2 linked regions of the Homo sapiens genome follow. The protein of the gene in region 2 interacts with the protein of the main gene of each other region in a pairwise test. Each region holds a gene or a part of one and is shown on either strand. Other genes may lie near its edges.

The links. The genes of interacting proteins can lie anywhere in the genome.
Region 1: the proteins of ZNF662 (region 2) and NDEL1 interact in binary tests that used the Homo sapiens proteins (3 or more experiments, as listed by UniProt).

Annotation. Positions count from the first base shown.
Region 1 is NC_000017.11:8,463,234-8,466,883, reverse strand, and holds part of NDEL1 (nuclear distribution protein nudE-like 1), read right to left. Parts: intron 3,565-3,650; coding exon of another isoform or gene 3,530-3,564; intron 1-3,529. UniProt on the Homo sapiens protein: Required for organization of the cellular microtubule array and microtubule anchoring at the centrosome. May regulate microtubule organization at least in part by targeting the microtubule severing protein KATNA1 to the centrosome.
Region 2 is NC_000003.12:42,904,513-42,908,262, reverse strand, and holds the start of ZNF662 (zinc finger protein 662), read right to left. Parts: upstream 2,122-3,750; 5' UTR 2,095-2,121; exon of another isoform or gene 1,912-2,094; coding exon of another isoform or gene 1,822-1,911; intron 242-1,821; coding exon of another isoform or gene 149-241; coding exon 115-148; intron 1-114. UniProt on the Homo sapiens protein: May be involved in transcriptional regulation.

The DNA.
Region 1 (3,650 bases), on a different chromosome or scaffold from region 2:
AACTCATTTAAAATCACTCACACACAATAGGAAATTAATCTGCTTTCTAAAACTATTCCTCGCAGGCTGTAGGGTCCTGATGGCCCAAGGGGCACTGGCTGCCTGGAAAGCACCAGCTGGTTAGAGAATTGAGCCTTTGGGAATCCTGGGGAACCAGGACCACATGACCTGTTTGGCAACTGCCGCACACTGGCCACGGAAGCCACAGTCCTGATTCTTTCCCCATAAAGCAGGTCTAAATGCCTGGCAATAGGGAACTAGTTAAATAAATAATGGTACAACTGAACAATAAGATATTGCACAGCCATTAAAAACACATTCCACAAGTTTTTTAATAGCATGGGAAAATATTCAGAATGTAACTAACACTAAGTGGAAAAAGATGCAGGTTACCAAACTCTGTAGATTCAATGATATGAAAGAAAAAAAAGCAAATAGTATATATTCTAGATTCTAGACTATAGCCCCTTAGATAGACATTACTATCCATGCAGCTAAATCCACAAAGCAGGGACAGAGGGGGAGTGTGTATAAATAAATGTATATATACATACATTATATATACGCATACACATATATATATACACACACCAACATATATGTACATAGGATCATATATATCATAAAAAGAAAATTTAAGAATCGTTACTTTTCTTCCCTCTGGGCTGTGGGTGAATTTTGTTTACTACTTTATCCTTTTTTAATCATTTTCCAAATCTCCTTACATTTTCCAAATATAATGTATTAATACACGAATATCTTAATAAGGTGGAGAAAAATAACCTTTTAAAAATTGTTTAGCAAGCAACGCCAGATGAGTAGGCTTTTCAACGCAGACTCGTGTGCAGACAGCCCAGCCCAACCCAATAGCCTGCAGCCAGGACCCAGCACCCGGAGCCCAGCGACACAGGGAGCCCCCCAGCGTCCCCATCACGCACCCAGAGCCCAGCGATGCAGGGAGCCCCCCAAGCATCCCCCTCACGCACCATGCAGCGCAGCCACAGGAAGCAGCAAGAGGGGGAGGGAGTGTGCAGCCTGGAACCTCTCTCAGGAGCCACTTCAGCCTTTCCACCTTGAAACGCTTCCTAGGAAAATTTGTCCCACTAGCAATTTGGGAGATAAAGCCAACTACGACAAGGGGCCACACTGCACCACACCTGCCCACTACTGCCCCCACCTACTCATCAGACGGCTCCAGGGAGCTAAATACAGACTCATGGAGAGAGGTTCTCCTTAAAAAAAAAAAATGCCGACACACACTCCCTGCAGAGACAGCTGTTTCGTACACTGACGGGGTGAGGATAACCTCACAGACAAACAGGCATGCAGAGACTTGACAAATAGTCCCTGCCTACTTGGAAGAAACAAAGTTCATGTCTAAAGAAACTAAACTCAGAGTACATATGTGGAGTTTAAATTCCAACCACGCATACAGAGACCAAGAGCCCCAGGAGAAAGGCTCTGACAAATGTCATTTCTCCCTGTTGCACACTGTCCTACTTCGACGACAAACAGCCAGATTGTCTCTTTCCTCACTGGGTTAGGTCTGATTTTTGAGCTTCAACACATTTGCAAGTTTGAAATCATCCTTCCCACTCTCCCAAGGTCACAGGCCTGTGCCTCTTCTGGGGCCAAGGCCATATCCTATTTGCCACGGTAGCCCTCATATAATAGGCTCCATCTGTCTGGCTAGTCCCAGAGTCCCTGACACCTGCTTCTCCTAGAAACCTCAGGGACAACCAGGCAGGCCCCACAAATGCCTGCAGCTCTCAGCACGTGTGAACCTCAGATTCCTGGCCTCACACATCACAGTGGCAGGCAAGCCCCTAAACCTGTACTGCAGACAGTGCCCGGAACCCAGCAGAAAGGGAGCACCATTGGATGCCAAGAAGAATCTGGCACCTGGGCCACGGGGGTGTACAAAAGCAGCAACTAGGAGATGGCTCCTCAAGCAGGTTGAGGATGGGATTCTGGCATTTTCAAGTGCACCGTAAGGAACAACAGGTTCATCCCACTGTTCCACTGCCAAGACAACCAAAGCAAGAGAAGGTCCAGCCATTAGCCTAGGCTCACCTAGTGAGCCACTGATGGGGAAGTCGGGGCCACAGCTGCCTCCAGATGCCCAGGCCAGGACCCTTTTCTAGTCTCCTCCTGGTCAGAGGCCACCTAGCAGCCCTCAGAAGCAACCACTTCGGCACTCCAATGCAGGCCGGCTCTAATGGGAAAAGTAAGTGGTGCAGCCCAGACTATAAAGAGAGAACCGGTAAATTTCTACATGGGCAGAAATGGAACGCTTAATGTGAAGGTGGGTGGAGTAGAGAGGGAACATCAATCCACCAGGGTCTCACCTAGCGCCTCTCTCCTGACTCAAAAAGTAGAAAGTTAAAGAACAGAGAGAGAAGAAAGCTGGCCTTCTAGATGGGATGACAGGTCTAGTGAAGTCCTTCAGAGGCCTGCAAAGCTGTGCATGGGGAAAAGATTTGCAAGAGAAGAGACTCTATATTCAACAGATTCAGTTTCAGGGAGCAGCAAAGAGCCACAGGGCAATGTCCCAGTGCACAAGACAGGACTGAAGGAAGAGTGATGGGGCAGGCTTGAAGATACAGATCTGGGAATCATATATGTAAAAAAAAGGTTCCAGAGCTATAAAATTTCATGATCTTACCACCACAGACTAGTTAAGGAGGCTGAAATATAGAGAATCCAGCTAAGAAAAAGTGCTAAGGTCAGTTGTAAAATGTCAGTGGAAGAAGTGAAAAGGGGGAAGAGCCAAGGCACACTTAGAAGCTACTCAGGACAATAAATCCAAAGCAGCTGAGATGAAGGATGGAAACATTAACTCTGTCAAAGCAGCAAGGATCAGGACACTGGAGAGGGCAGGAGGGTGGGCTCAAGCTATCCAGAAGAGCCTGCAGGCAGGCACACGCCACACCTGAGTCTCCTATTTCAGTGGATGAGTGTGGGCTCAGAGCAGCTCCAGCCTGCTCCAGTTCTCAGCCCAGGCTCTGCAAACTGCAAAGCAGTTCTGAAATGTAAGGCAGATCTTACACACGTCCCCATGTACCATTCCATTTTAACTGGGGACTCCATGCGTGAGCGCAGAGGTGAGGGAATGCTCACACTGGTGCCTGACTTGAGAAAACAGAAGCAACTGGGTAACGGGAAGACCCCCAGTCCCAGGAAGACAGTCAAAGGTGATCCCAGGGCCTGACAGTGACCTCAAACCCCCATCGCCAGACTCTGAAATCAACACTACAGCGCCCTAGCCCATCTCAGGCGTGCCACCTGGCATGCTACTCCCAGCCACCCCAGGACCACTGCAACTAATTTGTTCTTGTTTCTCACAGCTGAACTAATAACGGCATACAGTCAAGTCGAACAGGACCGTGAAAGTTCACTGATGGGCTGTAAGTTGGTTAAAGCTGAGTCAGCCCCATGCAGTTAGTAAAACCAGATTGTTAATGTGTCTTCCACCACACACCAGGATTAAGAAAGAATGAAAAAGAGCACAGCAAACAAATTCAGTTACCCATGAACAACGTGGGAAATATGACTTTTTCTTGCCTAATAAAAGAAAGGAGAACATATTAAACAGTAATACGAATACTATTTCCACATCACGCCCTAAAATTAGTCCATGCCCACCTACA
Region 2 (3,750 bases):
GAGCCTGAAGCTGCCATTGAGCTGAGGGTTATCAACAACTCCTGAGCCTTTGAGAAAAAAGGAGCCAGCAAACTCTCAAGGGTGGAGGCAGGGCCCAAAGGGAGAGACCCTTACCCAGGGAAGCCACAGCCCCATAATTCTCCAGCATCACATCCCTGTACAGGGCTCTCTGAGCAGGGCCCAGGCCGATCCATTCGTTCTCAGAGAAGTAGACGGCCACATCCTCGAAGGTCACTGACTCCTGAAACAACATGTGTTTAAATGCCCTAGGACAACCCCAGGACCAGGCCAAGAGGAAGGGGAGACAGGGCATCAAAAGGTACTGTGGGGGTGCCTGTGGGGATTCTGGATTCTGAATGTCTACAGGAACTCTATCAGCAGAAGATTTTTGCCTCCTATGTACAAAGAGACAAGGCATCAGCCATCAATTTTCTCATGTCTCTTCATCTTTATTTCAGCAAACATTTTCTCCTCTTTTTCATGAGTCTGCAAAAGTTTTCTTGTTTCATCCTTATACCCCAAACCACATCTGTGCTCTAGGTCCCATCCTCTCTCCACAATGTGTCCTCCTTCAGAGGTCACCCACCCTTGATAACAACTATCATTTATTAAGCCTGTGCCAAGCACTTGACATATATTCTTTGTTATGTCTCATAGCCTACTATCAGATCCGTTTTTTAGAAGAGGAAACTGAGACTCGGAGGGATTAACTTCCCCCAAAGTTCCAGAACTGAGACAGAACCCAGGCCTGTTTGACTCTGGCTCTTGCCTGTTATGCCACACTGCCTTCCGTCCCCATTCCTGCCATCCCTGCTGCCCCTGTATAGGACTCTTCCTCCTTTGTCCTCCCCAGTCACTGCCACCAGCCACAGAGGCAGCTAGGGCTCCTCAGAACATTCAGGTTGCTCTGAACACTGTACTCAACAGGGCAGATCCTCGTTGTGACTTTACTCCCTGCACCCCCACCACCCGCAACACTCTCACAAAGATCCCACCTCACTTGCTTACCCACGTCCCAATCTCCATGTCCCCATTTTCTATATCTCTAGGAGTCTCAGCTCCTGCACCTTCTTTCTCTCATCCTCTTAAGAAACAAATACTGCTGACCTCCAGCCGTTGGGACTTCCCGTAATTCTCAGCCACTGCCTCCTTCAGGGTCTCAGTCTCCACACTGTGGAGGAGCCCATTCTGGTCCACTGCACTTCAGTCCTTGCGCACTAGAAAGTCTCCACAGCTATTTATCCAGCACTCCAGGGCTCCAAGGCTTTGGCTGGCTCAACTTTGTCTGCCTAATAGAGTCCACATTCCTCTGCACTACAGACAATTCCATTCACTACTCACAGACCCAGCTTTCCTGGCCAGGATCATCAGCCACCACCACTCTCATCTCCGATCCTCTCACCATTGCATTGGGAAACCAAACTCTTTCCTCACCCTGTTCTGTGTCCTTGCACCTGCGGCTACTCTTGCCTGAATATCCAGTTCTTCCTTCCTGCTCCTGCATTGCAAATTCCTTTTCAACCTAATACCCAGCTCAAACATAACCAGCTCTGTAAAGGCAGCTCTGAAATTCTGGCCATTCATCGCCCCCGACAGCACTCTGTGCGCTCTGCCCCAGCAGTCGGCTCAACCCCGTGCCGCTGCACGTCTGCTCTCCTTGAGGCTCAGGTCCAGGGGTGTCGACTCCGCTGTGCTGCCTGTCCCTCGAGGCCCCTCACTCTGGGTTGTACCCCCATTTCCCAGCCGCCGCACCACCCCGTCTCCGGGCCTAGAACCCAGGGCAGGGCCAAGACTGCTTCCAGGCTCCGGCCCCGCACTCACCCGGCGCGCCCGGGGCAGCGCGGGCTGTCCCGGGAGCAGCTCGAGGACAAGGCCGAGGCGTGTCCCGCTCGCCAGCGCCACGGCCGCCATAGCCCAGGTCGCCCTCTGGGAAAGCGAGGGCGCGCCAGACCGGACCAGAGGCTGTTGGGGTCGCGGAAGAGCGCTCTGCACCTGGGCAGGCCTGACACGGCTACCCTGCGCCCTGCAGCCACCGGAGTAAGACCCCGACTCCACTCCCTGCCCGCCCCACGCCCGACTCCCCGTGCTCCACACCCGCCAGGCCCCAGCATCCGGGAGGCCGGGGCTCGGGCCGCTCCGGTTGCTCTAGGACGGCGGAGGGCGCCGCATCTCTGTGGTCCTCCTTTCTCGCTCGGGGAGGGAGGGGAGAGCGGTCCGGTTCTCCTGGAGACACGGACGATCCCAGGGACCGCTACCGGGGTAGGGGTGCAGGCGGCTGGGGAGGAATCCTTCCCCTGCGCTCTAGGCCACCCCTTCCTCTCCAGCTCGCTGCACCCTAGGTGGACAGATATTTGCTGATAGGAGGTAGCGGGTACTTCACTAGACTGCACCTGCTCTTTTATCTCTCCTTTTACCAGTTTTTGCATTCCCAGAGCAGACCTGTATTTTATGTCTTTTAACATTCTCATCTTTGTGCCTCTAACATGCGCCCGATGTCTAGCACCTCCTGGGGAGTTATTTCTTTAACTGCCAAGGAATATTTGTAGAATTGTCCACGAAAAGTCAAACTGTAAAATATTTGAAGGGATTTATCCTGAGCCAAATATGAGTGACCATGGCCCGTGCCACAGCCCCAGGAGATCCTGAGAACATGTGCCCAACGTGGTCGGGCTACAACTTGGTTTTACACATTTTAGGAAGACATAAGACATCAATTAATACATGTAAGATGTACGTTGGTTCGGTATGGAAAGGTGGGACAACTGGAAGAGGAGGCTTTCAGGACATAGGTGGATTCAAAGATTTTCTGAGTGGCAATTGGTTGAAAGAGTTAAGTTATTGTATAAAGACTTAGAATCAATAGAAAGGGATGTCTCAGTTAAGATAAGGGCTTGTGGAGACCAAAGTTTTATCATGCAGATGGAGCCTGTAGCAGGCTTCAGAGAATAGACTGCAAATGTTTCTCATCATTATCACACTACCGGATAGTCTGTGAGACTTAAAGAGGCTGTTCTATCAGTCTTAAGGTCTGTGTTGATGTTAATGCTGGTCAGCTGGTCCTGAATTTCAAAAGGTAGGGGAGCATAATGAGCCATGTCCAACTCCTCCTTCCCATTATGGCCTGAACCAGTTTTTCACGTTAACTTTGGAATGCCCTTAGCCAAGAGGAGAGATCCATTCATATGGTCAGAGGGCTTTGAATTTTATTTTTGGCTTACGGAATAAAAGAATGAATAAATGTTGAACCAGTTTTTCAGTTGAAGAAAGTAAGGCCCAAAGAGAGAAAATGGCTTACCTAACATTATGCAACATGCCAGGAAATTAAATTTTTTAAGAAGTGTGAAAATAAAGATTATTCAAATGAGAACAAAGACTATTATTCAGAGCTTGCTATATATGACAAGAGAGTCAGCCCTCATCACTTGCATTCAGCAGACTGAAAGTCAGGCAGAAGAGTGGGGAAAGCTTCACAGTGGAAAAAAGGAATGGCTTCAGGTATTCCCTTATTGGAAGTTGCTGGCATGGGGAAACTACAGGCGGGCTAACTAGAAGCAGGGAATCTTATGTAATTGGTAGGGGGAAATTTTTGGCTTTCTCTGTTTGGTCCTAAGTTGGAAGTAGTATGGGAAAAAGTAGGGAATCTGATAGTTTTTAATCAAATTGCTACCCCATCTCTACAAAAATAAAAAAAGAAAGAAAGAAAGAAATAAAGAAAAATAGCCAGCTCCTGGCTACTCAGAAGTCTGAGAT